Homo sapiens: one gene and its partners. The protein of the gene in region 1 purifies or fractionates together with the protein of each later gene. This does not show direct contact. Each region holds a gene or a part of one and is shown on either strand. Other genes may lie near its edges.

Evidence for each region.
Region 2: the proteins of PALS1 (region 1) and YAP1 purify together in Homo sapiens (affinity purification with mass spectrometry; 7 studies listed by BioGRID and IntAct, with this or other methods). This does not show direct contact.
Region 3: the proteins of PALS1 (region 1) and AMOT purify together in Homo sapiens (affinity purification with mass spectrometry; 7 studies listed by BioGRID and IntAct, with this or other methods). This does not show direct contact.
Region 4: the proteins of PALS1 (region 1) and MPDZ purify together in Homo sapiens (affinity purification with mass spectrometry; 3 studies listed by BioGRID and IntAct, with this or other methods). This does not show direct contact.

Annotation. Positions count from the first base shown.
Region 1 is NC_000014.9:67,244,013-67,251,590, reverse strand, and holds part of PALS1 (protein PALS1), read right to left. Parts: intron 1-7,578. UniProt on the Homo sapiens protein: Plays a role in tight junction biogenesis and in the establishment of cell polarity in epithelial cells.
Region 2 is NC_000011.10:102,112,958-102,120,535, reverse strand, and holds part of YAP1 (transcriptional coactivator YAP1), read right to left. Parts: intron 6,393-7,578; coding exon 6,142-6,392; intron 1-6,141. UniProt on the Homo sapiens protein: Transcriptional regulator with dual roles as a coactivator and corepressor. Critical downstream regulatory target in the Hippo signaling pathway, crucial for organ size control and tumor suppression by restricting proliferation and promoting apoptosis.
Region 3 is NC_000023.11:112,809,576-112,817,153, forward strand, and holds part of AMOT (angiomotin), read right to left. Parts: intron 6,303-7,578; coding exon 5,783-6,302; intron 1,819-5,782; coding exon 1,674-1,818; intron 412-1,673; coding exon 319-411; intron 1-318.
Region 4 is NC_000009.12:13,220,402-13,227,979, forward strand, and holds part of MPDZ (multiple PDZ domain protein), read right to left. Parts: intron 4,183-7,578; coding exon 3,973-4,182; intron 3,310-3,972; coding exon 3,170-3,309; intron 2,046-3,169; coding exon 1,832-2,045; intron 1,100-1,831; coding exon 971-1,099; intron 1-970. UniProt on the Homo sapiens protein: Member of the NMDAR signaling complex that may play a role in control of AMPAR potentiation and synaptic plasticity in excitatory synapses. Promotes clustering of HT2RC at the cell surface.

The DNA of each region.
Region 1 (7,578 bases):
TTACAATTTACAGGCTCAAAGTTCTTCACTTTAATTCAACTACTTTTTTTTTGAGACAGGTTCTCGTTCTGTTGCTGTTGACCAGGCTGAAGTGCAATGGTGCCATCATGGTTCACTGCAGCCTCAACCTCCCACACTCAAGAAATCCTCTCACTTTAGCCTCCTGAGTAGCTGGGACCACAGGCACACACCACCAAGTCCAGCTAATTTTCGTATTTTTTGTAGAGACAGGGTCCCACTGTGTTGCCCAGGTTGGTCTCAAACTCCTGGGCTCAAGCGGTCCTCCTGCCTCGGCCTCCAAAATACTGGGATTTCAGGCATGAGCCACTGCGCCAGCCTCACGTACATTTTTAAACACTAGGTAAAGTGGAAAATGGCTTTCATCAAAAAGTTTCTAATCTTACCAAAAAGACAATGTTAAAATAAGTCTTAAGGCAGGCTATATTACAGACAAAGCAGAAAAGCCAAGGGCTTTGGGATCAAATAAAATTAATTCAACTCCTTTCTATCACTTATAATAGGACTATGGAAAAAATATTTAATCTCTCTGAGCCTCAATTTCCTCATTTGTAAAAAGAAGAATGCTGACAAAGAACTTGAAATGTAGTTGTTAATATTTAAGAAATACATACAAAGGATACAGCATACAGCATAACACATTAAGAGACACAGCGAGGGATACAATTCTGGATAAGAGGGGAAAGCAGAAAGTATTGTGATTTGGTCAAATGAACTATCAATCTTGCTATAAATTTTAAGTATAAAAGGATAAGGTATAAAAAACAGAAGGATAAGATTCCTTTAGGATGCCTACAAAAACTATGAAATTTATTTTCGTTAACTCTAAGTATGTACTGATTACCCTTATGCAAATCATTATTGTGAAAAACATTTGCAGGTCATTTATACAGTCGATGAATCACCTGGATCAGAGACCTGTATCTGGGGTTCATGACTTTATTTCCATGAATCCCTGCATATTGTATGAACAGTGTGTGTGTTTCAGAGGAAGGGCCCAGATGACTATCAGAATCACAAAACAATCTGTTTAACTAGAATTTTTTGTTTAATATTAGACAGTTAAATCTGCATGTCCAGTACACATAAACTGGAGTTTATACAGTTTTCAATGTGAGGCAATGTGATTTCCAATACTAAGACAGAAGAACCACTGTTTAACACATAACTTATTTTCTTCCAGATTTTTTTGGTCAGTAAATATTTGAGTGTCTAGTACTTCTGAGCATAAATGAACATCAAACAGTAGTCACAGCTCTCGATAATTTACAGATGAGTTACAAAAAAGAATAAATTGTTAATGCATACTTTACTAAAATTTTAAGAACTAAAACTTATTGCCAGTAGGAGGGTATGGAACGTTCCTGGAGGAAGGAAGAGTGGGTGGCTGAATTTTAAATGAAATTATGAACACAGCCTCTTGGAGAAGGGTTACTTTCGTCTATCTACATCAATGGTTTTCAAGTTGTAGGATGTGACCCATTTGTGTGCCATAAAATCGCTCTAGTGAATCTCAACCAGCTTCATAAAAAACAAAATAGAACAGCTTTATCTTGATAGAAACTCAGAAAAAAAGACTTTCCGAAGCGTTACTTACATTTCAAACATAACACAAAAATGAGTATCTAAATATGGATACTCTAAGTACAACCAAGTCCTAGCAGAGCACCTAGCTCACTACATTCATAGGAAGCAATCACGTTAAACGAATGCAGTCTTAAAGGCACTTCTAAAACACACAAGCAAAATACAGATTGCCTACTTCTTACATCAAAACAAAATAATGTATTTTAAGTTACATTCTCAAACCTTTTCTGTGACAATGTAAAACTCTCAAAATATAATGTTTTCACACAAAATCCTCAACTTTTTGTGTGAAGTTTCTCAAATTGTGAAGCCAATTATGATTTATATCAAAAAAGCATAACTCAAAAGATAACTATAGACACATAATTAAAATTTCTAATATTTGAACTTATTAGATATACTACAAACTGTAAAAACCTGACTCTCCTTAATTATTTCACATCTGTTGGTTTGTGACAAAGCACTGTGCAGTCTTGAAACAAAAAGTGAATAAGTGAATATTTATTAAGTATCTGCTATGTGTCAGATATTTTGCTAGGTGCTTTCCATATCTCAGCTTGAATTTTTCAATCATCTTTCAAGGTGGCTACATGTCATAGGTGAGAAAAGTGAGGCTTGGCCTAGAATTACAGCATGAAATAAATACCCCAAGCTTCCTTTTACTACATTACTACAATTACTGTCATTTCTCCTGCTGATTTTTTGCCTTAAAACATTGGTATGAGGCCAAGCATGGTGGCCCACGCCTGTAATCCCAGCACTTTGGGAGGCCGAGACGTGCAAATCACCTGAGGTCAGGAGTTCAAGACCAGCCTGGCCAATATGGTGAAGCCCCATCTCCACAAAAATACAAAAATTAGCCAGGCATGATGGCGGGTGCCTGTAATCCCAGCTACTCGGGAGGCTGAGGAGGGAAAATAACTTGAACCCGGGAGGCAGAGGTTGCAGTGAGCTGAGATCATGCCATTGCACTCCAGCCTGGGGGACAGAGTGAGACTTGGTCTCAAAAAAAAAAATTGGTATGTAGGCCAGGCGTGGTGGCTCATGCCTGTAATCCCAGCACTTTAGGAGGCCAACTTGGGAGGATCACTTGGGTCATGGAGTTCGAGACCAGCCTGAGCAACACAGTGAGACCCCATCTCTATCTCAAAAAAATAAAATAAAAATGTTGGTATGTAAACTAAGTCCAGAGGTCAAATCAGGCACACCTTATTTTTATAAGTAAAGTTTTATTGGAAAAGTCATGCTCATTTGTTTGGCTACCTCTGCCACTCTAACAACAGAACTGAGTACTTGCAACAGAGACAATATGGCCCACGAAGCTAAAATACTTACCGAAAGTTGTTGACCCCTGCCTTAAAGAAGCAAAATGCCAAGAACCCTGGAGGCCTCAAAATTTCAACGTCTTTGAGGGTGTTTGAGACTATTAACTGAAGAAGAAACTATAAAATTATATGAGACAGAAAGCCAAATGTTTTAATTTTTATAATGTTATATCATAATCAAGAAAATTTAAGTCCTACTAAAATGTAAAATGTAGGTAGGTAACTGTTAATGAATACCTTGACTCTACTGACTTCATTAAGTATTTTAGTTCACAAAATCTTATATTTGGTTTCCTTTTTTTTTTAAGAAAAGAGATCTTGTTATGTTGCTCAGCTGGACTCAAACTCCTGGGCTCAAGCGACCCTCCCACCTCAGCCTCCCAATTGGCTGGGGCTACAGGCATGTGACATTGCTCCTTCATTTTTAAGAATAAATGTTAATGTATATTAGTTTTTAAAAATCCAAAATGATTTTTGTTTAAAATAACCCCAGAGTTAGTCCCAGAAACATGCAAATATGGTTCAACATTTGAAAAATCAGTGTAATTCACCATATTAACAGATTAAAGAAAAAAGTTCACACAATCATCTCAATACATGCAGAAAAGGCATATGATAAAATTCAACATCTATTCATGATTTAAAAAACAAACCCTCAGTAACCTAGGAACAGAAGAAAACCTCCTTAACCTCCTTAACAGAATGCACAAAATGACCTACAGCTAATATCATTTTTTAAAAGTGAAAGACTGAATACTTTTCCTTTAAGAAAGTGAGCAAGAAGCCAGGCACTGTGACTCATGCCTGTAATCCCAGCACTTTGGGAGGCTGAGGTGGGCAGATCGCTTGAGCCCAGGAATTTGAGACCAGCCTGGGCAACATGGTGAAGCCCTGTCTCTACTAAAAATACAAAAAATTAGCTGGGCATAGTGGCACTTGCAGTAGGTCCCAGCTACTCAAGAGGCTGAGATGGGAGAATCAACTGAGCCCAGAAAGTCGAGGCTGCCGTGAGCAGTGCTGCGCCACTACACTTTAGCCTGGGGATAGAGTGAGACCCTATCTTAAAAAAAAAAAGTGAACAAGATAAAGATGCTACTTCTCATCTCTCCTATTCGACATCTCAGTGGAAGTCCTAACCAAGACAATACAGCAAGTTAAGGAAAAGAAATAAAAGGCATACAGACTAGAAGGAAAGAAAAGTTTTGAGCACGACTGTCTACTTAGAAAATTCCAAAAAAAATTACTAAAATAAAAAAGCTCCTAGAGCTAATAAGGGAGTTTAGCAGAAAGTCAGGATACAAAGTCAATATACAAAAATTAATTTCTATATACCATCAGTGATCAACTGGAATCTGATTTTTTTAGATTACCATTTACAATAGGACCAAAAAATTAAAATAATTAGGTATAGACTTAATAAAGTATTTGCAAGATCTGCATATTGAAAACTACAATACTCACATAAATGGAAAGAAATAGCATGTTCATAGATGAGAAGACTCAAATTATTAAGATGTCAATTATCTTCAGGTTGATCTCTAAATTAGACACAATCTCAATCAAAATCCCAACAGAATGTATAAATTATCAAGATGATTCTAAATATCATACAGAAAGCAAAGGAACTAAAAATAGTCATAACAATTTTGAAAAAGAATACAGTGGAAGAGTCACATTACCTAATGTGAAGACTTATTTTAAAGCTATAGTAGGCTGGGTGCAGTGGCTCACGCCTGTAATCCCAGCACTTTGGGAAGCCGGGGCAGGCAGATCACGAGGTCAGGAGATCAAGACCATCCTGGCCAACACGGTGAAACCCCGCCTCTACTAAAAATACAAAAATTAGCTGGGCGTGGTGGTGCGCGCTTATAATCCCAGCTACTTGGGAGGCTGAGGCAGGAGAATCACTTGAACCCAGGAGGCGGGAAGTTGCAGTGAGCTGATATCGTGCCACTGCACTCCAGCCTGGCGAGAGAGCAAGACTCCATCTCAAAAAAAAAAAAAAAAAAAACCTATAGTAGGCCAGGCTCAGTGGCTAACACCTGTAATCCTAGCACTTTTGGAGGTTGAGGTGGAAGGATCCCTTGTGCTCAGCTGCTCAAGACCAGCTTGGGCAATATAGGGAGATCTTGTCTCTACAAAAAATTTTAAAAATCGGCCTGGCATGGTGGCATGTACCTATAGTACCAGCCACTGGGGAAAGTGGGAGGATGGCTTGAGTCCTGGAGGTTGAGGCTGCAGTGAGCCATATTCACACCACTGTACTCCAGCCTGGGTGACAGAGTGAGACCCTGTCTCAAAAAATTTTTAAATAATACAGTCTGGGCAACATAGCCAAGACCTTATCTCTACAAATAAATTTAAAAATCAGCCAAGTGCGGTGGCACGCCTGTGGTCCCAGCTACTTGGGAGGATTGCTTGAACCTGGGAGGCCAAGGCTGCAGTGAGCAGAGATCACACCACTGCACTCCAGCCTGGACAGAGAGAGACCCTGTCTCTAAATAAAAAATAAAAATATAAATACAATAAAATAAAAATAAAAAATAAAAAGGATAGACAAAATAGATCAATTGAAGAGTCCATAAACAAACCCAAACAAATGCAGTCAAATAGCTTTTGACAAAGAGACAAGAGGAATACAATGGGAAAAAGATCATGTTTTAAACAAATGGTCATGGAACTGGACAAACAAATAAGTGAAACAACTTGTACTTCTCTCATTTTATACAAAAATAAACTCAAAATGGAACATAGATCTAAAAATAAAATTACAATATAAAACTTGGAAAAAAAAATTGGAGAAAAATCTCTCTGACCGTGGATTGAGCAAAGAGTTCTTAGATACAATATTCAAATTTTAAAAATTAATAATTTGGACTTTCTCAAAATATAAAATTCTATACTTCAAAAGTAATGAAGTATAGAAGTTATGAGGATGAAAAGGCAAGCCAGAGTGGAAGAAAACCTTCGTAAATCACTTATCTGACAAAGATAAAGGACTATATAAAACTTTTGGGGCAGCGGCTCATGCGTGTTATCCCACCACTTTGGGAGGCTGAGGCAGGAGAATCACTTGAGCCCAGGAGTTCTGAGACCAGCCTGGGAAACATAGTGAGACCCCATCCCTAAAGAAAAAAGGAAAAAATAATAAGATAATAATAAATTCAGCAATAAGACAATAATCCAATTTAAAAATGGGCAAAAGTTTCAGACACTTTACCAAAGATAAACAGATGGCAAATAAGCACATGAAAAGATGCTCAACATCCTCAGTCATGGGGGAAATGCAAAGAAAAATCCCAACGAGATACTACTAAAATGGCTAAATCTAAAGACTGACCATACCAAGTGCTGACAGGAATGTAAAGCAACTGACCTCTCATATATTGCTGGTGGAAATGCAAAGTGGTTCAGCCACTTCAAACCCAGCCTGACAATGTATTAGTTTCCTATGCCAATGTAACAAATTGCCACAAATTTAGTGGCTTAAAACAACAGAAATTATTTTACAGTCCTATAGGTTAGAAATCTGGCATATGTCTCCCTTGGCTAAAATTACTGGCAGGGCTGCTTTCTTTTCTGGAGCCTCTTCAAGATTCTAGACACCACTCATATTCCTTAGTTTGTGGCCTGCTCTCCTCCATCTTCAAAGCCAGCAACTTTGCACTTCTCTGACCAATTGTTACATCTTTTTTTCCTGACTCTACTCTTCTGCCTCTCTCTTTCCTTTTTTAAAGATTCTGTGATACACTGGGACCACCTGAATAATCCACAATAATCTCCCTAAAGTCATCTGATTAGCAACCTAAATAAGCCTTTGCCACTTAAGCAAACATATTCACAGGTTCCAGGGATTAGGATATCTTTGAAGACCTTTATTCTGTCTACCACAGATAGGTCTTTTTTTAATTTTAAGATAAAATTAGGCTATACCTACCATATTCCATCTACTTAAGAGAAACAAAAACTTAGGTTTACACAAAAACCTATTTGCAAAGATTTACAGCCACTTTATTCAGTCACAAAAAACCTGAAAACAACTCAAATGTCCTTCAACTGGTGAATGGATAGGTGATGGAACTGTTCTTTACCTTGATTGTGGTAGTTGCACAGCTCTCTGAGTTGGAATTGTACAATGAAAAGTTAACTTCATTTCATGTAAATTAGAGTTAAATATTTTTTAAAGAAAAGAAGCAATTATATCATTTCTCATCCACCAGATTAGCAAAAATTTTAAAATCTTACGATGCCCAGTGTGGGCAAGAATGTGAAGCCACTGTCACTCATACTGTTTGCAGGAATGTAAATGATTACAGCATTAAAAAGGGTAATTTGGCTGTAGCTAGTAATGTTGAAAACACATATCAACCTATTATCAGCAATTCCACTTATAGGTAGGTATACATACATTCTAGGAAAGCGTCCACACATGCGCTCAAGGAGACATACACAAAGATATTCATTAAACATTGTTTGAAATATTAAAAAACTGAAAATTCTTCAGTAGGGGAATGAATTGCAGTTAGTAGTTATTAAAAAAGAAAACGGAAAAAATCCATGACAGAAAGAATCCTGCCAGTTAAGTGATTTGGAAAAGGCAACTTATTGGTTTATCTAACAATGAGACATCCTGAGAAGAGCACTGAAT
Region 2 (7,578 bases), on another chromosome or scaffold:
ATTAAAGTGACAGCACATGAAGTAATGGCACTAACCACAAATAAAGCACTGAAAATATCTGGTAGAAGAAAACCCAAATAATAGATACTGCCATTTGCACTATTTTATTAATTTGCAACATCATTCAAAGAAACAACAGACTATCACTTGGTTGGTGTGTTTAAAAATTATGATTCTTCTCATGCTAGGAGCAAAATGAGGATTAAATACTGACCATTTTCCTTGTCTAGAATATTAAAGGGGAGGTGGGGAGGACTGCTGTGATTTAAACCAAACTTCTTTGTTTGCATTTAGAAGGGGTCAAGCCCTACGTAAATAAAAGTGCTTCCACGGTGGCAGTACTTGTTCCCAGGAAACTTGGTGCTACAGCACTTGAGCAACCAGAACCATGAAGCAATTCTTCTTCATAGAAACGGCAATGTCCCTTTCATGGCTTGTAGTTCTGATTAATCCTAGAATCAGAAGCCCTTTTTGTAAGAAGTGCATCACCTAGTAACCACAGTTATAGAACGACACAGCTCTTTAAGACCTCCCTTTATACAATGCTACTCAGCTATTATTAAAAACTTTCAAGCCACAATTAATGGCTAAATTATGCTATTACAGAGGGTAGCATTAAGTTTGAATAATCTTAAATCTTAGCAACTGATTTTTAAAATGACTTCACTTTGATTGGTCCTAAGCTTAAATTTCTATATATATTTTGGCAATAAAACAGTTTAGAGTTTACCTCCCCTCAAAGCCTTAAGGTACAAGGCAATGCAGAGTCATGATACCCTGAGTATTTTAAGCTGTGAATTCACATTATTTTTCTAACTACAAAGTAAAATATTTCTCTACATAACTAAAGAGGACTTATTTTAGGGTTGTAAAAACCTGGGTTTTTTTTTTTTCCAAGTTTCAACTATTTAAATGCTATCTAGATGTTTGGGTTTTTTTTTAATGGCTAAGATAAAGCTTTAGGAAAGGGTATTTTTTTTTAAATGTGACTTTAAAAAGAAAATTAGCCTACCACCTTGCAGTCAATTGAGTCTGCTACATTTAAACTTCCAGAGATAGTTCTAGAATTCTTTCTAGAACTAAGAATCATAATTTTTAAACACACCAAGTGACAGTCTGTTCTTTGAATGATGCTGCAAATTAATTAAATAATGCAAAGAAGTTCTAGTGAACTTCTTTCTTAGTTCACACTAAAAAAATTCCATTATTTTTCCCAGGGAATATGTTAATCTCTATGTTCTATTTACTCTGTCACATCTACTATCTTCCAACTGTTTTTCTTCTGCCACTGGTGAATACAGTTTCTCCAGGGTTCTCTCCCTAAATCACTGTGGCACTGTGTGCCATTCTTCCCTGGGATGCCCACCCACTGAGCAGAAGTAAGCTCTCCCCCACCCCCCAGAGCTAAGGGCGTACTTTCATCTTCTCTCTCCACTCAGCCTCAATAGCAAGACAAACAAGCAGAGACTGGCCTTCCCTCAAATAGGGAAATACTTCGTGATTGCAATTTGAACTGGTTTTTTGTTTGTGTATACATGTGCACGTGTGCAACTTAACATTTAATGGCAAAATTACAAGCTTTTCAGTTTTAAAGGGAAACTCTGGGTTATACTTGATACAGAAAGAAACAGTATAGCCTTATTCTTCATGAAACTTCCTTTTAAAGAGGCATAATCTTTATTATGAAGATACACTGTATATGTTCTGTATACAATGTATAAATACCAGGTACACTGTATATGATAACAACATACACTGTATATGTTCATAGTCTTTTTTTTTTTTGAGATAGAGTCTGGCTCTGTCGCCCAGGCTGGTGTGGAGTGGTGCAATCTCAACTCACTGCAGCCTCCACCTGCCAGGTTCAAGCAATTCTCCTGCCTCAGTCTCCTGATTAGCTGGGACAATAGGTGTGCGCCAACACACCCGGCTAATTTTTGTATTTTTGTAGAGATGGGGCAGGAGAATCACGCGAACCCAGGAGGCAGAGGTTGCAGTGAGTTGAGATCGTGCCACTGCACTCCAGCCTGGTCAACAGAGCAAGACTCTGTCTCAAAAAAAAAAAAAAAAGGAAAGAAAGAAAAAAGAATCAGCCTATGTATAGCGATCAATCACATCTACAAGGCAAATTAATATAGGAATATGGGTAGTTTTATGCCATGCAATGTCAAAAATCTCTGAAAAACATATCCTTTTTAAATTGTATACCAAGCTACTCAATATAACTTAATCAAATCACAGCCACAAAAAACCTTGAATCTTCGCAGACTAAAAACATTGTGGCCAGTTATTCAGAAAATGATAAACAATGGAAATGAAACAAAACTGTGCTTTAAAAATTATTAGAACATTATTAAAACAATGCAAATGTACAAACTTTTAAAATCACTGATCCAGATTCCTTAAATCAAATTATAAGGTCCTACATGGTACATTATATATAAGAACACATATCTTTGAACATGGTAATAGTTATAAGGCATCAGAGTCAATAAAATAAACTTGCAAGTAAAACACTCCTTGAAACCAGAGATATTATAGAATACTGAGTCAGGAAGTTATTCAGCAGCTTATAAAGAAATAGGAAGTTGTTGACCAACTACTTGAAGAACTATTTCCTGTAGGAAAACCGTAAGACAGCTGAAGAAGGTAATAACTCTCAGAGTCATAAAGAGAATGAATTCTTTTAAAATGAAAGCTCAATACGATGGTAAAGAAAATAGTTTTGAATAGTAAATGTAGTAGAACAAATATTATATGGCTAAGCCTTGTTTACATACTTCACATTCATCCCAGAGCTTGAAAACAAGCCACTGATAAATGTAACTAGCACCATACTTCCACCGTATCACTTGCCAAAGTAAGGTATGAGTCTCCTCCACAAGATCTCACTGACCTAAGGAGGGCTTTAAAACAACGAATGATTGCCTGCTTATAATCTTTCAGTAATCATGCTGCCTGGAAACTAGATGATAGGCCAACTAACTTCAAAAACTCAATCATCTATGGTCACAAGGCCAACAACTGGGTTGTTTCTTAACATTTCTAAGTTTTTTCTCAAATTACATCGTCTTGCCTGTCTGGACCATTTATAGTCAGGTTCTTCATGCCAAATATAAATCTCAATAAGTTATAGACTTTGTAACTTAAAAGTCAGTTCCAACAAATATCTAAAAAGATGCATTAAAATAAAATGTTTCATTGCGGAAACAAGTGTAAGGCAACTAATTTAAATCTTCATTCTACATCTGATGACAACAACACTCCTCTTTAGATACAAGAGGAAAGTATATAAATATTGATTACAAAGACAGCCCTATTTTAAAACATCAAAACTAGGATAAAAATGAACTTTGACAACAGAAACTTGGCACCAAAAGCTTAGTTTATCATCATCTTTGACTAATGGTTAGGATATTAATCTCATTTGTCTGTTCAGTACACAAAAAGAAGTTGTAACAACTATACGGTCCATAACATCATGGAAGTAGCTAACTGGAGAAGGTGAAATAATCTTATTTCATAACTTTTCTCCAAATTGCATAATGTTCATAAAGCAGATACTCTTTAAAATACAAAATTTTATAAGCCCACAGCATTCTTCTCCCACATCCAATGTTTAGGGGCCTCCATAGAATCCCTGACAGATACCAAGTAACCATGATTTTACCTACATTTATTGAGCAAGATTTACCTGTCCAGGAAAACTCTTCTAGTTCTTAAAAGTTTTATATAAGAAAATTCTTCCATGGAATCAAAATTCCTCACATTTCTTATATAGTAAGACTAATCCTACTCCCACATAAAAGTTCCCCAGAAACACTGAAACAACAATCATGTCTTATCTCTCCTCCTCCCAGTTTTTTCTTTTCCGGGTAAATATCTCTCTACCCTTGCAACCTTTTCTCCTATGACATAATTTGAGATTTATTTATTTTAGCCTGGTTTATCTTCCTTACAGGCCCATAGTTGACAGGGGTGAATTGAGGTGACTGGGGTTGGAAGGTATATACCCTTCATTAATCCATCTACATATATCAATACCTTTAAGAGAAACATTTCTTCACAAAGGAAGAATCACTGGAAACTTTGAAAAATGAATAGTCATTCCTTAGCATCTGTGGTCAAGGATTGGTTCCAGGACCTCCTACATGTACTAAAATCCACAGAGGCTCTGGTCTTTCATATAAGGTGGCATAATATTTGCATATAACCTATACATATTCTCCCATATACTTTATATCACCTCTAGATTACTTATAATACTTAATACAACGTAAAGGCTAAATAGTTGTTACATTATTTAGGAAATAATGACAAGGAAAAAAGTTTGTACATTAGTCAATACAGATGTAATTTGTTTCCAAATATTTTCAATCAGAGGTTGGTTGAATCCATGAATGCTGAACCCACAGATACGGAAGGCCAACTGTATCTAGAATACTGATTTCAGCTCAAAAAAAGATCATTCATTCAAAATAATGAAATCGTAGGCAGGTATCACCTACAAGCAATTATTACAAGATACAAAGAACTAAGAAGAAGAGCATAAATGTTGCTCTTTAACCTTATACTTTTAGCCACAGCATCAACCAAAGAAAGAAGGAAAGCAGGCTATTAAGCTGTTTAACAATCTCCCCAGGTCAGCATGTGACCCAGCAGGGAGAGGTTCAAAAAAGTGCAGCCTTTCTTTTTCTTCCTAACAACCTGGTTTGTTTCCACTCCCTTCCCCTTCAAGACACATCCTTCACAGCTAGCAGCTCTTTCAATCATTTACTTTGGATGTCTGCTTGAGAACAAATGATCTTGCTCATGCAGATGAGTTTGCCAGACTTGTGTGTACTTTCCAGTCTCAGGCCCTTTACTGTTCTGGTTGAAACCTGATCCTTTGAAATGGATACCAGGACACCAGAAAATGAATTTTTTTAAAAAAAAAGAAGAAAAGAAAAGAAAAAGTTGCAGGAAAGGGGGCAAAAAAAAACTGTACGAACTTTTCATGATCAAACCTTTTCCTTTGCTCTTCTGTAAGTCTGTCACAAAACTTTCTATCTTACATTACAAAGTAGCAACCCACCCTGGAAGACAATCAATATAAAACACATACTAGGATTCACACAACAAAACATCCTTAATGGTGTTATCTGGTATGATAAATAAATGTTACATTTGCCTTAGGAGTAGACTGTCAAGACCTATCCGAATCAAAACTTACACTGTTTTTCACTTTATTATCTCAACCTGATTAAACACTATTAAGTGAGCTTTTTTAAAGACATCAATTTCAGTCTATCATAATTAGTTTTAGTCAACATTTCAATATATACTTGATCCAAACAAGCCAGAAAAAAATTGAGGTCTTATCTGTAATTTCAAAATCAGAGGAGAGAAAATTCTATTTATGTCTTTTCAGCCTAGTGTAATTCTGCCATTTTATTAAACACAAAAGGACTGAAAAAATAAAAATAAATAAACAACCCAACGGTCATGTTTTTGTTTTCCCAGAGAGGAGGGTTTCTGTTGTGAAGACCTACTAGCTTGAAAGAAGTTTGCCACTGAGCGACTGCATATGAAACCTAAAAATTTTTATTTCCCTTTACATTTTTGGGGGGAAATATTGGTAAGTCACATCAAGCTTCAGTTGTAGTGCTTGTCATTTCACAATTTAAAATACTGTAAAATTAGACTCCCCCAAAAGCCCTACTTATTTTGTAGTTCTCTACCAATAAAATATTTATTTAAAAAGATACAAGTAGCACCATACGTATTTTGTAAGACGCTGCTAGCCCTGTAATTCCCAGAATTTGAAAATTTTCATGGTATTCTTTCTGTTTTGTGCTAGGCTAATTAAAAGGTTTGGCACAAGCTCAAAATGAGAATAACCAAACTTCCACAAAAGAAAAGATTATAAAGAGGCTCAGAACCAAGACTCAGTAAAGCTTTCAAAATATTACCCATACTAACAAAGGTATTTAGGTCATACCAAACTGAAACATATATATGGAAGATAGAGCTACAGAGCTTAACATAAATATTAAATAAAACATAAAAATAAATGATATTCTGTATCTTGACACCACTTTACTGTGTTTTCCAATACATATTTGTCTTAGATAACTGTCTCCCACCATTATTTTCACTTACTTTAAGAAGTATCTCTGACCAGAAGATGTCTTTGCCATCTCCCAACCTGCTGGCAGAGGTACATCATCAGGTATCTCAAAAGAAGACTGTCGAAGATGCTGAGCTGTGGGTGTAGCTGCTGGGCCAGAGACTACTCCAGTGGGGGTCAGTGTCCCAGGAGAAACAGCTCCCAACTGCAGAGAAGCTGGAGAGGAATGAGCTCGAACATGCTGTGGAGTCAGGGCTCCTGCAGTGCCTGCATCAGTACTGGCCTATTAGGGAATATTAAGATGAAAAATTAAAAAAGAAAAAACACAACTGAGTCCCTTTAAATTTCCCAGTCAGCGCTTAATTGCAGCCGAATATCTAAGTACCAAAGGAAAATTTCAACATTTAATATTCGACACTGGAGAACACAGGTTTTCAAATGGATACTTTTAATATTATATAATTTTAATATAAATTTTATAAATGTTTGTAATTGTATTGATGAGCAGTCCATCTAATGAATTTCCCCTGGTCCACACTAGACATGTAAGGGCAACTAGTACTGAATGAATAAAACATTCCAAAAATAATAGTGAATTTTAAAACCTAATTTTTAAGAGGTCAGTGCAGTTATGGGTGCTTTTCCAAGTTCTAAAATGTTCTAAGTATAAACACAACACAAAGAATATGTATTTTTTACTAGGTTTTAAGTAATTAATTTTTTTTCTAGGTCAAACTCAAGAAAAATCAAGCCCTCGTCATTTATTCCAACCATGATAAAATGCCATCAATAAAGAAATCATAACAAATTACACAAATTTTAATGAGAGCAACAAATTTGAACTGCCCAAATGTTCTTAAAAGCCATCTACAATGAACAGGATGAAAAAAACCCAACTATATCTTTGTATGTAGAAGATAAAGATGTTATCAGTCCAATTTTAACTTAAGAACTCACACACATCCACAACTCTATACAAGCAGAAAAAATTCTGCATTCAGACCCCAAAGATCTGAGTTCCAGTCTAAGTTGGCTAGTGTGACACTGAACAAGTATCTTAACTTCCATATGCCTGTTTTCTCCTTTATAAAATAGTTTTCATGATAGAAAAATGGATGTATATGAAAGAACTTACAGTCACCAGTTTGTGTTGTGAACAATAGTATTTACAACCTAGATTTGTACTATTCATAATCTTGCATAGTTTTTAAAATATTTTTAATTAGCATTAGAGTTTGATTATCAAAAAGTTAGAATTTCCTAGATTCACAAAGGTAAGGAAACTGGAAGGACTCAGTAGAGTCATTAATGCCTTAAAGTGATACACCTTTTTGAGTTTCCCATCAGAATAAGTATGATTTAGGAAATCATTAGGAGAAATAAAAGTCGAATTTACAGATGCAAAACACTTAGTTAAAAACTTATTTAAAACAAACAAAACTATAATAGTTTATGAATTTTAGAACTGC
Region 3 (7,578 bases), on another chromosome or scaffold:
TCAACATGAAGGGACCTCATGTTCAGTAAGCCTCTTTATTTAGATAGCAATGACACTAGCAGGGATTTCAAGGGGCTTCTCTAGTTTAATGCTGAAGGACCAATGTGATGTGACGAGATGTTGTGGCAAGCAGCCTTCTTGGCTTAGGAGGAAAAGAACAGAATCTTCCAACTTCATGCCTGAATAGGAAAAACAATCCTTAGGTGATATTGACTCTGCCCTGGCTGTTCTAAAAGGCTAAAGAGAACAGTGTAATCTTTTCACGCACCTTGCTCCCATCCACACGTTAATACCTGTTTCTGCAGCTTGCAGACTTACTTTTTGCAAAGAGCTGCGAGATGGTTTTTCTGGTGTCCTCTGACCCCTCATATTCCTTCTCTGCAAGCTGCTTGTTGGCAGTCTCTAGACGCTCTGTGAAATTTGGAGACAATCAACAGGGTCTCAAATGTAAACTTTCATGCACATACTATTGGCCCTCTAAATACTGACCTTTGGTAAAACAAGCCTGTTTCTTCTTGTTAAACAGGAATGGGTGACTAACATGAGTTTGCAAATGTGAATCCCAAAATAATACTAGACCATGGCCGGGGAGGAGGAGGTAAGTATTTAATGCTTTCACTCCTCACTGCCAAAACCTAAGTTAAGTGCAGAATTCTAAATTTCAATGAAATTATCCATCCCCAAATATATAAAGATATCTTTCATTAACCAGAAAAAAAAGAGTATCACAGTTATTATAAAGTATTTAAACTCATGTAATGTCAAAGTTGAAAGGGACAACTAGCAGCATGTATTTGGGCCCCCTGACTTTAAAGATAAAATAACCAAAATTCAAAGATAGTAACATCCCTGGCCGGGCACAGTGACTCATGCCTGTAATCCCAGCACTTTGGGAGGCCACGGTGGGTGGATCACCTGAGGTCAGGAGTTTAAGACCAGCATGGCCAACGTGGCAAAACCCCATCTCTACAAATACAAAAATTAGCCAGGCATGGTGGCGCACGCTGGTAATCCCAGCCAGCTACTCAGGAGGCTGAGGCAGGAGAATCACTTGAACCTGGGAGGTGGAGGTTGCAGTGAGCCGAGATTATGCCAGTGCTCTCCAGCCTGGGCGACAGTGCAAGACTCCAACTCAAAGAAAAAAAAAAGAAAAGAAAAAGGAAAAAAAAAAGAAAGTACCATCCCCAAGGTTAGCAGTTTTGAAGGTGCTGAAGGCACTTTAAAGTAGAAATATTTCCCAAAGTCTTCAATATTATCAGGTGAAAGTCAAAAATAAAAGGAGTCAGTCAGTCCTGGAAATAAGAGAGGACATTATACTTCAAGCTTGCAGTCAAAGGGCACGCCTCTGTAAAACCTGTTAAAAAGAAGAGGCAGCACCTATTGTGGGGGTGGGCCAGGTGGGTCCAGGAGTCCCAGCAGGGATCCTGCCTGATTAACACATCAGCTCATTGCTCAGAAGACCAGTGAGGTACATCCACACTTTGATCAATCAAGCTTGGGACTGAGGACTATTGCAGTCACAAAAAATTAGCCTGGCACATGCCCAGCCATTTACTGCCCATACCGGTGGGTTGGACAACCCCAAAGAGCCTAGTTGGATCCTGCTCAGCCCTTCCCTTCACCACCCTGCAGCTGCTTCAGAAGTACAAAGACAAGTCTGTTGGTTCCCTCACCTCTCAGATCCCTGTTGAAATCATGCATCCTCCGAATCTCGCCCTCTAGCTTGTTTCTCATGGCTTTCTCTAGGGCCTCTCTTTTGGAGGATGACTTCACGAGGTTCTCATATGCCTCCGAGACGCGCTGGATTTCTGTCTCCACCTTAACAACAAAAAAAGACAATGGTGGTGATGGTAGGAGGGTGATGGGGAAAATGGTCTGAAAACAAACAGGCAAATCCTCGCTGACAGCTTCTCCCAGGGCTCACAGATGGCCAGGAGGCAAGCATAACACAGTCAGATGACACAAGTTTCAAGAAAGGATCTCCACCTTCAACCATAAGCTTAGTAATTAACTCATGGTGTCATGGTCTTTCCTCGGGTTAAAAAAATAGACAATTTCTGCCTTCAGAGGAGATGGTAAGATAGAATAAATTTTATAAATAGTTATAAAGGATTTTAATTTCTGAAGAAAACTCTTAATTTTGAAAATATTAGTAATAATATATATAGTATGTAGATATTCCAAAGCATTCAAAGGGCTTTCACATGTTGGTTCCAGTCTGCACTGATTATCTGCCTAGACAGGATACCTCTTCTCATTTTAGTAGAGAGAAAAGTCAAATTGCCTCTGAAGATCAACTGTCAGCAGCAGAGACCAACCCTAAAAACCCCAAGCTTCATGAAGTAGTTCAGTTCAATTTAACAAACATTTACCAAGGGCCAAATATTTACACGAACTCTTTAAAGTACTATTGGGGGTGTGTAAATATGAATGAGAACATTCTCACTGCCCTCAGGGAGGTTTCAATCCAATCGAATGAAAGACTATAGGGCAAGATACATCTTTAAGAAAAGTAGAAGTAGTGCCATAAAGTACAGACAAGGAAGAAGTTATTCCTGGTTGGGGAAGTGGGGAGGAGAACAATTTCTGAGAAGAGGTGGCATTTACAGTCAGATCCTGAAAGCTGGGTCAGATTTCAATGAGCAGAGGTGAGGGGAAGGGTATTCTATTCTGAGTAAGCAAATGCATTCCCAGAATGACCAGTCGTTTAATTTGGCTGGACACTGTGGGGTACGCAGAGGGAACCTGGCGAGATATGGCTGCTAAGATAGATTGGAGTCAGATCATAAAATGCTTTTAATGCCAGGCATTTGGACTTTATCCCATAGTCAATGGGAAACCAGTATAGGTTTTTGAACACAAAATCATAATCAGAGTTGTGTTTTATGACACCCCTGCAAATCTCATAAAATGGGGAAAATAAACTCAGAGAGAAAGGGTCTTCCCCTGAATCAGCCACAATCAGGCCGAAAATGAGAAATTAGACTCCAGAGTTTTTCTGTAACTAGTATAGCTCCATTGCACATATAATAGCCACACAGATATTTGCATATAATTTGTATAAGACAAATAAACCCACGGTCTATTAAGCAATTTTCAGATTAAATTGGACTCTGCAACCATTCTGCATTGCTTCTGTGTTTTCCACTATCCTGTTTAACAAAGCTCAGGGTACTTTCAGGGAAGAAATATCAGGCCCCTAATGGGACACTAGGGGAAAGGTAAGGTTGCCAAACCAGTCAGATTCAACCCGCCTCCATCTCCAAAATTCTGCCAGAGACAGGACTGCCTGCAAACAAATAAGGCTTATGCCACAGAAAAGAGCAGACTCAAAAGTGTTTTTCTCTTCACAGATGGCACCAAGATAGCAGCACAGAAGGTGAAAACTGGTGAATGGCATTTAGAGACAAGATCTGCAAGGCCTGCGCCTGATGAAGCTTTTGCATGAAACTCAAGCGCTGGGGAGAGAAAATAAACATTTCCATCTGAAAGAGCAGGCTTGGTGTTGGTCTGCTCTGGGCAGCATTTATAGTTCAAGGCTGTCCGGTTGTGCACAGAATGCAACACCTAGAAGGTAGTCCCTTTCCTCAAGGTGTGCAGACTGCTATTTCAAGATCTTGTACTAATCCTTCCCCTACCCCCTGTGTAGATACTCCATCCTTCAAAAGGGCAAGTCCCACAGCTCTCAATAGGGCCTTCCAGGAAAAGCCATCACAGAAGGATATATCCACTGGTTTGGGCTGGGTGATGGTGGGGGCAGAGAGGAGGGTGGCAGTGGGTTTTCCAGACTTACTCTGTCTACTTATTCCCCTCATGAGCCTCAGGCCTTTTCATTTCCTCCAGCACTACCTGGGATCTACCTTAATTTTCCCCACTTTCCTTTTCCTCTCCTGGTCCACCTTCCCCTCTACTCTACCTCGACACTGGGTCAGCCTCTACTTTCCCAACATTCAAGCTGTTCCAGTTACACTTATTTGAGGCATCTTTTCCCATCTTGGGGAACAAACAACAGCAATCCTATTCTCTGTCCCTCTTCCCTGTCACTGGCTGAACCCACTCCCACACACACAAAAAATCACCATGGATCCTCTGGCAAAAAGGGCCCGTATTAGAGCTGGGTTCATCCTTCAGTGATTGTATCAAAGATGGGCTGGGATCACCATGAAGAGAGAGTTTGGAGAGGGGGTGTCAACTGTTAGCCTAATCAGCCAGACTGGGTTTCTAGTGTATGGATATAATTAATTTATTTCACCAAAGCGATGGGGATAGGGATATAGTTAAAATTTGCGGGTGAAAATACAAAATCAGGGAAAAGCCGGGAAGAAACAATTCTCAGAGCACTCCAACAACCCTCATCCAGATTTAGGAAAACTAAGGGACAGGGAAGCCATTTTCCTATATAAAAATCCTCTGTTTGCCAGGCGCAGTGGCTCACGCCTATAATCCCAGCACTTTGGGAGACCAAGGCGGGCGGATCACCTGAGGTCGGGAGTTCGAGACCAGCCTGGCCAACATGGAGAAACCCCGTCTCTACTAAAAATACAAAATTAGCCAGGCGTGGTGACACATGCCTGTAATCCCAGCTACTCAGGAGGCTGAGGCAGGAGAACTGCTTGAACCCAGGAGGCGGAAGTTGCAGTGAGTGGAGATCGTGCCATTGCACTGCAGGCTAGGTAACAAGAGCGAGACTCCGTCTCAAAAAAAAAAAAAAAGAAAGAAAGAAAAAAAATCATCTGCTGATAATAAGCCCCTGTCTCCTTGAGGCCCCCAGATTTGGTGTCTGTTTACAAATACTCAGCTTCATTCAGGCCTCTGAAATTTTCACTCCTGGTGTTTCCTAAGGACAGAGTTGCTGGACAATACAAGGCATCCTCCTGTCCCTCCCCCACCTTCACCCTCACCTCTCTGAACAGTTCACATTGTAGGGAGACCAAACCACAATAGCTCCACAATGACAAAAGCTGCAAAGAAGCGGCCAAAGGCATAACCCTATTCACCAGCAGCCCCTGGAAGCCAAGAGCTAAGGTTCCTCGCTTGGGGTACTCCAGAGGTAAAGTCCCAATGGGGGTGGGCAGAGAAGAATGTGAACTGGAGATACACTCCTTTTTCTATTTCCTCAGCCTAGGGCTGTCACCTGTCACCCAGCTGTGGTGTTAAGCCCCTCCTGCCCCCCACATACAACAGAGAAAGAGAGCAGATGTTGAATTTGAGCTGCAGGGAGGGACCAAATCAAAGGGTGGGGTGGAGGGATTGTTGAAAGAGAGTTACTATGAGAACTCCCACTAGGAAAAAGTATTCTGAGCCTTTTCCAGAACAAGGCAGGACTGCTCAAACTTTAGCTGGTGAGATTTTTCTAGGAACTACATTTATTTTTATATTTAAGATTCAAATTCATATTTGGGAAAATGTGACCAAGACAATGAGCCTTAAGGTGCCGTCAGATCCTTTACCTATAAAGGCATCACCAGTATTCTTATCAAGAAGTATCACTGCCTTTTGGAATTCTAAAAGAATTAATCACGTTTTCTTTAGGGCTATAGCGTCTGGAAAAACTGCATAAATTTTTTTCTCCTTGTGTAAATGTAAGACGTTACTTCTCCTAGGTAGACAGGTAGAAGGCTTTTTCCAAAGTTTGACTCATATCTAACCTTCAGATATAAAAATCCTGAAGACCTGCCACAAGTAATGCTGGGATTCACAACTGGAGACTTTAATGTGGATATTAAACAAGTCTCACAAATAAAGACTTAGAGACCCTAATATCCCAAAACGGAAGCCTCACCTTCTGCAGTCTTGCCACCTTCTCATAGCATCCTTCCAACTCTTGCCTCAAGTTCCGGTTCTCGTCTGAGAGGATCTCAACCATCTGCTGGGCTCTGGAAACAATGGCAAAAGGGTCTGCTGGCACTGGCTGATAAGAAGCAGAGGATGGCTGAGCCCGAGGCATAGCTGAATAGGCTTCTCCTGGCTGCTGCTGTGGCTGCTGCTGCTGCTGTTGTTGGTGGTGATGGTGATGATGGTGCTGCTGCTGCTGTTGCTGCTGCTGCTGACTCAGGCCAGGTTGGGAGAGACGGTAATGATCCCCCTGGTGAGCCTGATTAGGAAGGAAATGCTGCTGCGGCCTAGGCAGGTGAGCTGAATGGTCTCCCTGGTTTGGGACCAAGGGGTGTCGGGCAGGAGACAATCTAGTGGATGGTGGAGATTGTAGCAAGGGCAAGGACCCCCCAGAGGTCAGAGAAGAAGTAGGGCTGTGAGGCTGCGAGTTCCTGGCTGACAATGGCAATGAGATGTCCTGCGCTGGCCTGTAAAACATGAAGGGCAGGTGCGGGTTAATTTCTCTCCTAAGGCACTGGGGGAGAAGGGCACACAAAAGTGAGATGAGGAGGCTTCTGATGCCCCCAGGACACCTGCAAAATGAAGAGCAGGCAGGGTCTGACTATGGGGAAGTCTAACCCTGCCTGCTCTATCTCTGCAAAGACCACAGCCCTTTTCCAGCCTGACCTTCTGTGCCTCTGCCTGACAAACAGAGGTGTGATCCCATGAGGGTCAGAACCAGACAACTTCCATGGTCACTTTGTGAAAATCGTAGTGATACACACCTGTACACCCGTTTGCTCAAGTCTAAACATTTCAAACGATTCTTCTACAAGGTAATTTTCATCTCATTATTTTAAATTAAACCTTTTCTGACATTATACACGTGGTCCAGCACACATAAAGATCCTAGTTTAGAAACTATGTTCCATTTGCCAGGATGGAAACAACAAACAGCCATAAAAACCACCCCCATCTTGCTATCTGCAACTCCCTTTAGTAATTCATACATTCACAAAAAAAAAGAAAAAAAACTATTCAAGGATTGGTAGATACTTATATTAGAGACACTAAATGATTATTGTTGCTTCCAGTTGTTAACGATTTAATGATTCCCATTAGCAGTAACCATAAAAAGACTTGAAGAGGGTTACAAGCAATGCTAACATACTATTTTTGATGTAATGAATCGCAAAATGTAAGAACTGGAAAGGCCTTAAAAGAAAATTATTTAGTTCAACTCTATCACTGGACAGATGGGGAATGAGGTCCAGAAAGGGGAAGTCATCTGCCAAATATTAGAGTGGTGGTGCCAAGATAGAATCCTTCTTTCCCAATTCCCATTTTCTGGCTTTTTCTACTGCCATAATGCATTGATTTCTGTGCACTGATACTTAGATTTCCAACCTATTGCTCATAGAAAGTTCCAGAAAGAGACCTTTGGTACATTGTTTAATGTGGCTCTCCCATTTTTGTACCTAATTACCAGGTACAAAATGCTAACACCTAAGTATAAATAATTCATACCTAATGACTATTAGCCATTAAGGGAAACAATTAGTATGTGGATGGATCACTTCCACCATCACCACTACCAGGAATAGTATCTGTCAGTGTGCACTGAAGACAAAAAGCTTGTTCATGCCCTAGCTCATGCCCAATTAACCTCATATGCTCCCATGTCCTGTGGACACTTGTTCTACAGTTGATATTTCTCAATCCAGGGAAGACAGATGGCTAAGTGCATGGGATCTGGATCCCAAC
Region 4 (7,578 bases), on another chromosome or scaffold:
AGTCCAACTGAGAAGCTGAACTTGTAATTTCATTTAATTTTAATTAACTTAAATTTTAATTTTAAAGGTGATATGCAGACAGCTACAATATTGAAGAGTGCAGCTCCACATTGAAGATAAAGCATGTAAATATCACATGCTAGTCAACGAGAGACATTTCATTTGATGCTGCTAGATGCTAACTAATGTTTAAAAGGAAGAAAAATTTGCATACTATTATATTACCGTTAACACCCCTACTGACAAGGTTGCCATTAAACAGGAATTTCATTTATGAATACAGGGAATATTTGATGAGCTGGACTTCCTACTTTAAGTTCAAACACACATGTATAAACAACCACTTTATTTTTTAAAAAGTTATAATCAAGGCAAAACTTACTTAAACCAGTAAGCCTTATCAAATTAAGATATAAATCATAACAAATGTGTTAAATCTTTTCTCACATATATTGCAACAATGTCACATATCATAAATGGTAATGCCTCAATAAACTACTCAAGTGATAAAAAACAGGCTGTGTTTCATACACAAAGATGATACCAATGACCCATCACTAAAGGAACAAGGTGAATGTTGTTTTTCTGCCTGAATACAAAAGTATATTTTCCCACAATACCCTGTGACTATAAAACAGCTGACTAGGTATATAAATACGAATTATGACTATAAAACAAATAGTAGCTACCTCCACAATTATCAAATCCATAACCTTGGCTTTAGTCTGAGGTTCAAAAGTGTTAAACTCATTGTCTAAAACTATAACTTAAGATTACTGTCCCTTTTCAAAGGTATTCCTCCCCTAGGTCTAAGACAACATTTTAGGGACACTCAATAAAACGAAAGATTCTAACTCAATTTCTTTGGCATCATTTAAGGCCAAAGTTTCTTCTTTCCAACAAAAAAATGTAAAAGATGTACCCATATTATTTGATAAAATAGCATAAAAGATCTATTGATGTAGCCTACCTGATCAGCTACTCCTCCAGGCAGAATGGTTTTTACTATCACACCAGTTGCTTTTCCTCCTATGATGCCAAATCCCAAACCAGATCCATCATTCACCAATTCAATCGTTTCCATGTGTTGCCAGTGAACCTACAAACAAAGCTCATATATGAATTTGTAGAAATTTACAAAGCACTACCATTTTACATTACAGTAGAAATTTTTGCGATTATTTTGTTAATATTAAATAATTAAATTCAGACATAATAATGAGTCCTAACAATGTCCCTTTCATTTGGTATACTTCCCTTTCAACAGAATGTAAGTGCCATTGACAGAATCATTCTTGAAATTATCAATATATCATCATAATGATTTCACTTCAACAGTTAAAGACAGGCATTGATTTGCAAGATCTTTTGTAGAACTTCTTTAAAAAAAAAGAAAAAGTTCAAAGAAAAAAAAAGGTCACATGTTAAGAATGTCTTCTGCATAATCCTGCCTTGAGGCAGGATTCCAAATTAGATGACTTCTTAAAAGTTACTGACAGCTAACTCTAACAATATAATTGTATAATTTTTAAAGCAAAATCAAGCTTGTATCTGTCTACAGATAAAGTCAATTTTGTTAAAGGACTACATTTTTCATTTTTAAGGAATGCTGTCAAAGGACAAAACTACACAAAGAAAAGTAATTGTTGTTTTAGAACTTAGAAGCTTTATCATGCTTAAAGAACAAATATTCCAGGCTGGGGAAAAATAAAAGAATAGTCAGACAAAAACTCAAGAAGTGCAAAGACCCTACACAAATTAGAAACTTGGAGATAACCAAAAACAACTTGAAAAATACGTTCTGTTCCTTTTGAAAATTTTAGGTACTCACCGGATTAGAGTGAGCTGAAATTGTGCTGGCTGCAGATGGAGAACGGGAAACTATGGGGCTGACAAGCTGAGGCAATGAGCCTCTGGCAATAACTAGCTGGACAGTATCTTTGGCTTTCTGCAGGATGCTGATAGCCTGCTGATGTGTAATTGTCTGATCAAGAGCCTGTCCATTGATAGCAAGAATTTGATCAGTTTCTTTCAATCTTCCATCTCTATCAAGGATGCAAAAGGGGATAAAAGACAATCTGAGAGTTCTCAAGGAAATGACAGCTTCTTTGGCATGTATGTTCAAGTCATTTTTAATCCTATTTTTAATTCCCACACTCTAAGCTTTTTCCTGCAGTTCTACTTTAAAAAAAATACACGCCTTGGCTGCAGGTCATCAACTCTCGTAAGGTTATTTCACTGCTACTCCTACTGAACCCCTCCCATATAAAAGTACTCTTTATTTCAGCTACCTACTCAGCCTACATTACATCTTGGATATTCTCATCTTCTAAAAATGAAAGTGGATATATCTATACAGTTGGCCTTGTGTATCCATGGGTTCCACATCCATAGATTAGATCCCCAACTGGGGATCACATCCATAGATTAGATCCCCAACTGGGGATCACATCCATAGATTAGATCCCCAACTGGGGATCACATCCATAGATTAGATCCCCAACTGGGGATCACATCCATAGATTAGATCCCCAACTGGGGATCAAATATACTCAAAAAAAATAATGCCACAACAATAAAAAAATCACACAAATTTTAAAAATACAATATGACTACTAATGTTTACATAGGATTTGCACTGTGTTAGGCATTATAAGTTAAAGATGATTTAAAATATATGGGAGAATGTGCACAGGCTATATACAAATACTATACCACTTTATATAAGGGACTTGAGCACCTGCAGATTTTAGTACCTGCAGGAGTCCTGGAACCAATTCCCCATGGATACTGAGGGGCAACTATATTAAATTATTGCTCTGGGTACATAAAAAAAATGCAGCTCGAATTATTATGGGTCATTTCTAGCATGGTAATTTTAAAAATCTAATCAAAAAGAGCCCATTTAATTAACAATGAAAATAATGTTATCCTCAAATTTTTCTTTCCTTACCAAAACTTAAGTTATGACTATATCTAAAAGCTACTCTCATTTCAAAGAACCTGCTATTTTATCACAACAATGTTAATGACTTCTAAAAACTGGTTAATAACAGATTATGTTCAATTTTTTGTTGCCATTCATTATTATTTTTCTAAATTCCTGCATAGTAACCAAAACCTTCAGAATGTGGGATCAAAAACAAAGAAGACGCCGCGACCATCTCACCTATGGGCCACACTGCCCTCTTGTATCTCTTGAACAAATATTCCCAGCTCTCCTCTGTTTTCACTTCTTAGTCCCACAACACTAAACCCAAGGCCTCCAGATGGAGGTTTGAGGAGCTCAAAAACTTCTACATGGCGACCCTGTTTAGGAAACAAAGCAAGAAATAAAACTAAAAGCCAGGCCATGCATGGTGGTTCACGCCTGTAATCCCAGCACTTTGGGAGGCCAAGGTGGGAGGATCACTTGAAGCCAGGAGTTAGGGACCAGACTGGGCTACATAATGTGACCCCATCTCTATAAAAAATAAAATAAAACTTAGTAAGTGTGGTGGCACACATCTATAGTCCCAGATACTCAGGAGACTGAGGCAGGAGAATCCCTTGAGCCCAGGAATTTGGGACTGTAGTGAGCTATGATCACAACACTGCACTCCAGTGTGGGTGACAGAGCAAGGCATGTCTCAAAAAAAAACTTAAAAGCCAATTACTGCAGTAACAGTCATCTTATCAGAATCATTTCTTTGTTAAAAAAAAAAGAAATTGAATAACATTTTTCCAAGGTAATTGTTAGCACTTTATCCTGAAGAATATTTCTATAATACAACATATAATACTCAAATTTAAATGATGATAAAACTGTAATAGAAAACGTCTGAACCATCTAAACTCCCACAAAACTGACTTTTTGTTCCAATGTTTTCAGATGTTATAAATGTCACTATATTCTTCAAATTATCCATAACTTGATCACATTCTTAAATTACTACAGGTATTACAATAACTAACAGAAAGAAATGTTCTTACCTGGGCCATATTTTTGATAAGCTGATCAAATTCATCACAAGCAGGTTTCCCATTAATGTGTGGAATACCAGGTCCTGTAAGTGCTTCCAGATTCCCATTGTTTGGGGATAATAAAAACGATTCATTTTGCAGAGTAGGAATCACAGCTGGGCTGAGATGAGGAACGTGGGCATATTCAATATTTGAAGTTGCTGAAGTTGCAATATTTACCTAAGAGTAATGCAGGGATTATTAAGAATTTTGACATTCCATAAACTATTTCATAGAAAATATCCCAAGGGTACAAGGACATACAAATGAAATTTCAAAATGTCCAAATCCTTTAATCCAGCAATTCTATTTTGGGAAATTTATTTCAAGGATGAACATTAGGATAATACACAAAGATGTGTGTGCATCACTAAATGTTCAATGCAGCACCATTTATTAGATGGGAAAATTCAAAAACTACCGCCAGGGTTCAACTTCAGGGTACTCATTAAAACACACCCATAAATATATACATCCACACATATATTTTTCTGTCCCCAGATCCTATGAAGTAACCTCTAAACTCTCAGAATTTCCCCTCTCAGAATTTCCTGAGTGATGAGGTATCTTTCTTCTTCATGGTGGGCCCCAAGGCCACATGATATAAGCCCAAACTCGGAGCTGAATTTTAATCATATAGGCAGGGCAATCAATCACACCTATGAAATAACACGCCAATAAAAAATGCTGAACACCAAGATCAGGTAATCTTCCTGGGTTTGCAACACAGTCAAACACAGCTATACATGTGTTTGTGCTTTAAGCTAAGTGCTATTATGAGAGTCAAAAGTTTAAAAAAAAATTAAGACTTTATAAAGGAAAAAAAAGTTACAGTAAGCTAAGGTTAATTTATTATTGAAGGAAGTTTTTGTAAATTTACTATAGCCTAGGTGTACAGTATTTATAACTTATGTATAAACTCTATGCATAAGAGTTTTTTACCTGTCCTTAAAAATAAAACAGAAAACTCATTGTTACCAAAGTTACCAATAACTCAACCATTATATTGGCTATCTAGTAGCATACAGTATATTGACTATCTAGTAGTGTACAGTAATGTCGTAGGCCTTCACATGCACTCACCACTCACTCACTGATTCACCTATAGTAACTTCCAGTCCTGCAGGCTCCATTCATGGTACGTGTCTCCTATACAGGTGTACCATTTTTTACCTTTTAACCACATTTTTACTGTACCTTTTCTATATTTAGAAACACAGACAATTACCATTGTGCTACAACTGCATACAGTACTCCATATAGTAACATGCTGTACAGGTTGGTAGACTAGGAGCAATACCAAATAGCCTAGCTGTGTGGTAGGCTATATCACCAAGGTTTGGGTAAGTATACCCTACGATGTTTGCACAAGGATGAAATCACCTAATGACACATGGCTGTACTCTATACATATTGTCACACATCGATTCTGGGAGAGTTATACTTTCCCAGCAAAATGGAAGCTTCCAGTTTGGAATCCTCCCATAATCTGCACTACGCATCTCTTCCTTTGGCTGACTCTTGACTGCATCCTTTCCCTACCATAGATCATAACCATGAGTTTAACAGATTTCAGAGACTCTCTAAGACCTTCTAGTGAATTATGAAACCTCAAGGTGGCTAGGGGAACCTCGCAAATTTGCAGCTGACATCATAAGTGAGGGTGGTTTTGTGTATCCTTATACCTTTAACTTTGTAGCTGGACCCTAACTCGCCACAGTTGGTATCAGAAGTGTGGGGCAGCACTGGCAGTCTGGAGGACTGTGCCCTCAAATCGTGCTGTCTGGCTAACTCCAAGTACAATGACACACGTAACAACAACGGAAAAGATCATCCCACTTTGGGAAATGATTCTATAATTATTTGTGTGTGCCTTTTAAAAGAGTTTGAAGTTAAATCTAAATAATAATAAAGCAATGCAGTCAATCCTAATTTCATATTTATGTTGGGTGCCTGGATTGTGACTTTTTATCTGTAACTACTTATCAGAAAGCTTACTTCATTGATGTTTTTGAGTCACTCTCTGACCTCATCTCCTAGCAGTCTGTCCCTCACCCACTTAGCCCTAGCTGTGCTCCCCTCCTCACTGTGCCTCAAAGTGCCAAGCTGTTCACTCTACCAAACAGGTATATTCTTCCCCAAATATCCACATGCTTCCTTATTTCATTCAGGTGTGCCTAATCTCACCACAGAAAAGTCCTCCTTCGCATTCCTATCTAAGACAGCACCATTATACTCCACGAACTTACTGTGCCCTGTTTTAATTCATGGCACTCATTACCACCTGATCCACACCCTGCTGTCATGAAGCTTTCATCCCAGTCAGTGGAGACCGACTAGAATGCAAAAACTCTCCAGTGGAAATTTTTGACTATTTTATTTTTACTATGCCCTCGTTCTCTAGAAGAATGCCTTATACAGAGTTGTTCAACATACATTGGCAGAAAAAAAATGTTTATCTATTTTTTAAGGATCTAACTCTGATCCAATCTCCTGAACAACCTTTCAAGTATCATCTCAATGCTAAGGATGATGAAATTACGTAAAGTCACACAGCTAAGTTGTTTGTGACCTAGATTTTTTTTCATCACGGTGTTCCTATCATCCTTGTATTATACAGAAAACATACAGTCCTTGTATTATCCACAAAACATTTGAGATATCATTTAAAATAAAACATTAGGTAAAGAACATCCACTGACAGAAGCTATCAAAATATTTCACAATATGTCACCAAAATCTATACATAAGAGTTTGTTACCTATCCTTAAAAATAAAACAGAAAACTCATTAAGTTACCAAAGTTACCAATAACTTAACCATTATATTAGCTTTCTACAATCACAGATGAAAAAGAGATCAATGTGTTGAGAAGAGACTTTTGGGAATCCTTTTAAATGTTTATTTTAAAATCTATAGCAGGCATGATCAATTATTATTTTTTCAAAAGTAAGCTTCTTATGCCAAGATTGATTTTTTTTTTATCCTGAGCCATGGCAACTTCAATAAAGTTTGCCAGCAGAAGACACGCAGCTCAGGTTGAAGCAGATGGCATAATGAAATTTGTGACAGCCTGAGGATCCCACACACCAAGACCTAATGGCTATGGTATGTTTGCATAGGAAAAAATATTTGGACTTATGCTATGGTAAGCCAGAATGAACAAATCGCATCCCGAGAATAGAGAGTCTGTCTGTAAGAGATTCATGGTAAAAGAGAAGCTCTGATATTATGAAAGAGTAGGTATACAGGCATTCTAAGAGTAAAGTGAGTGAGAGCAGAACAAGTAAAATATTACAAAATGAGAACTGTATAAAAGTATTTAATATCAATTGTCATTTCCTAATTTGTTAAAGGTTTGAGGAAGGTCAATGACTCCTCCTGCTTCATCCCTGACCTTGAGGTCTACATAAATGTAAAAGCAGAGGTTATAGAGATCACATATTTAAAAACTATTATTTAATTATACCACCATACAAAAGTCTTATTTATAAATTGGCAAATTTATACTCATAAGAAAAAGCAGAAAGGCACCTTTGATTATGCTGTAATTGTTTATTAAAATGGCTTTCTGAA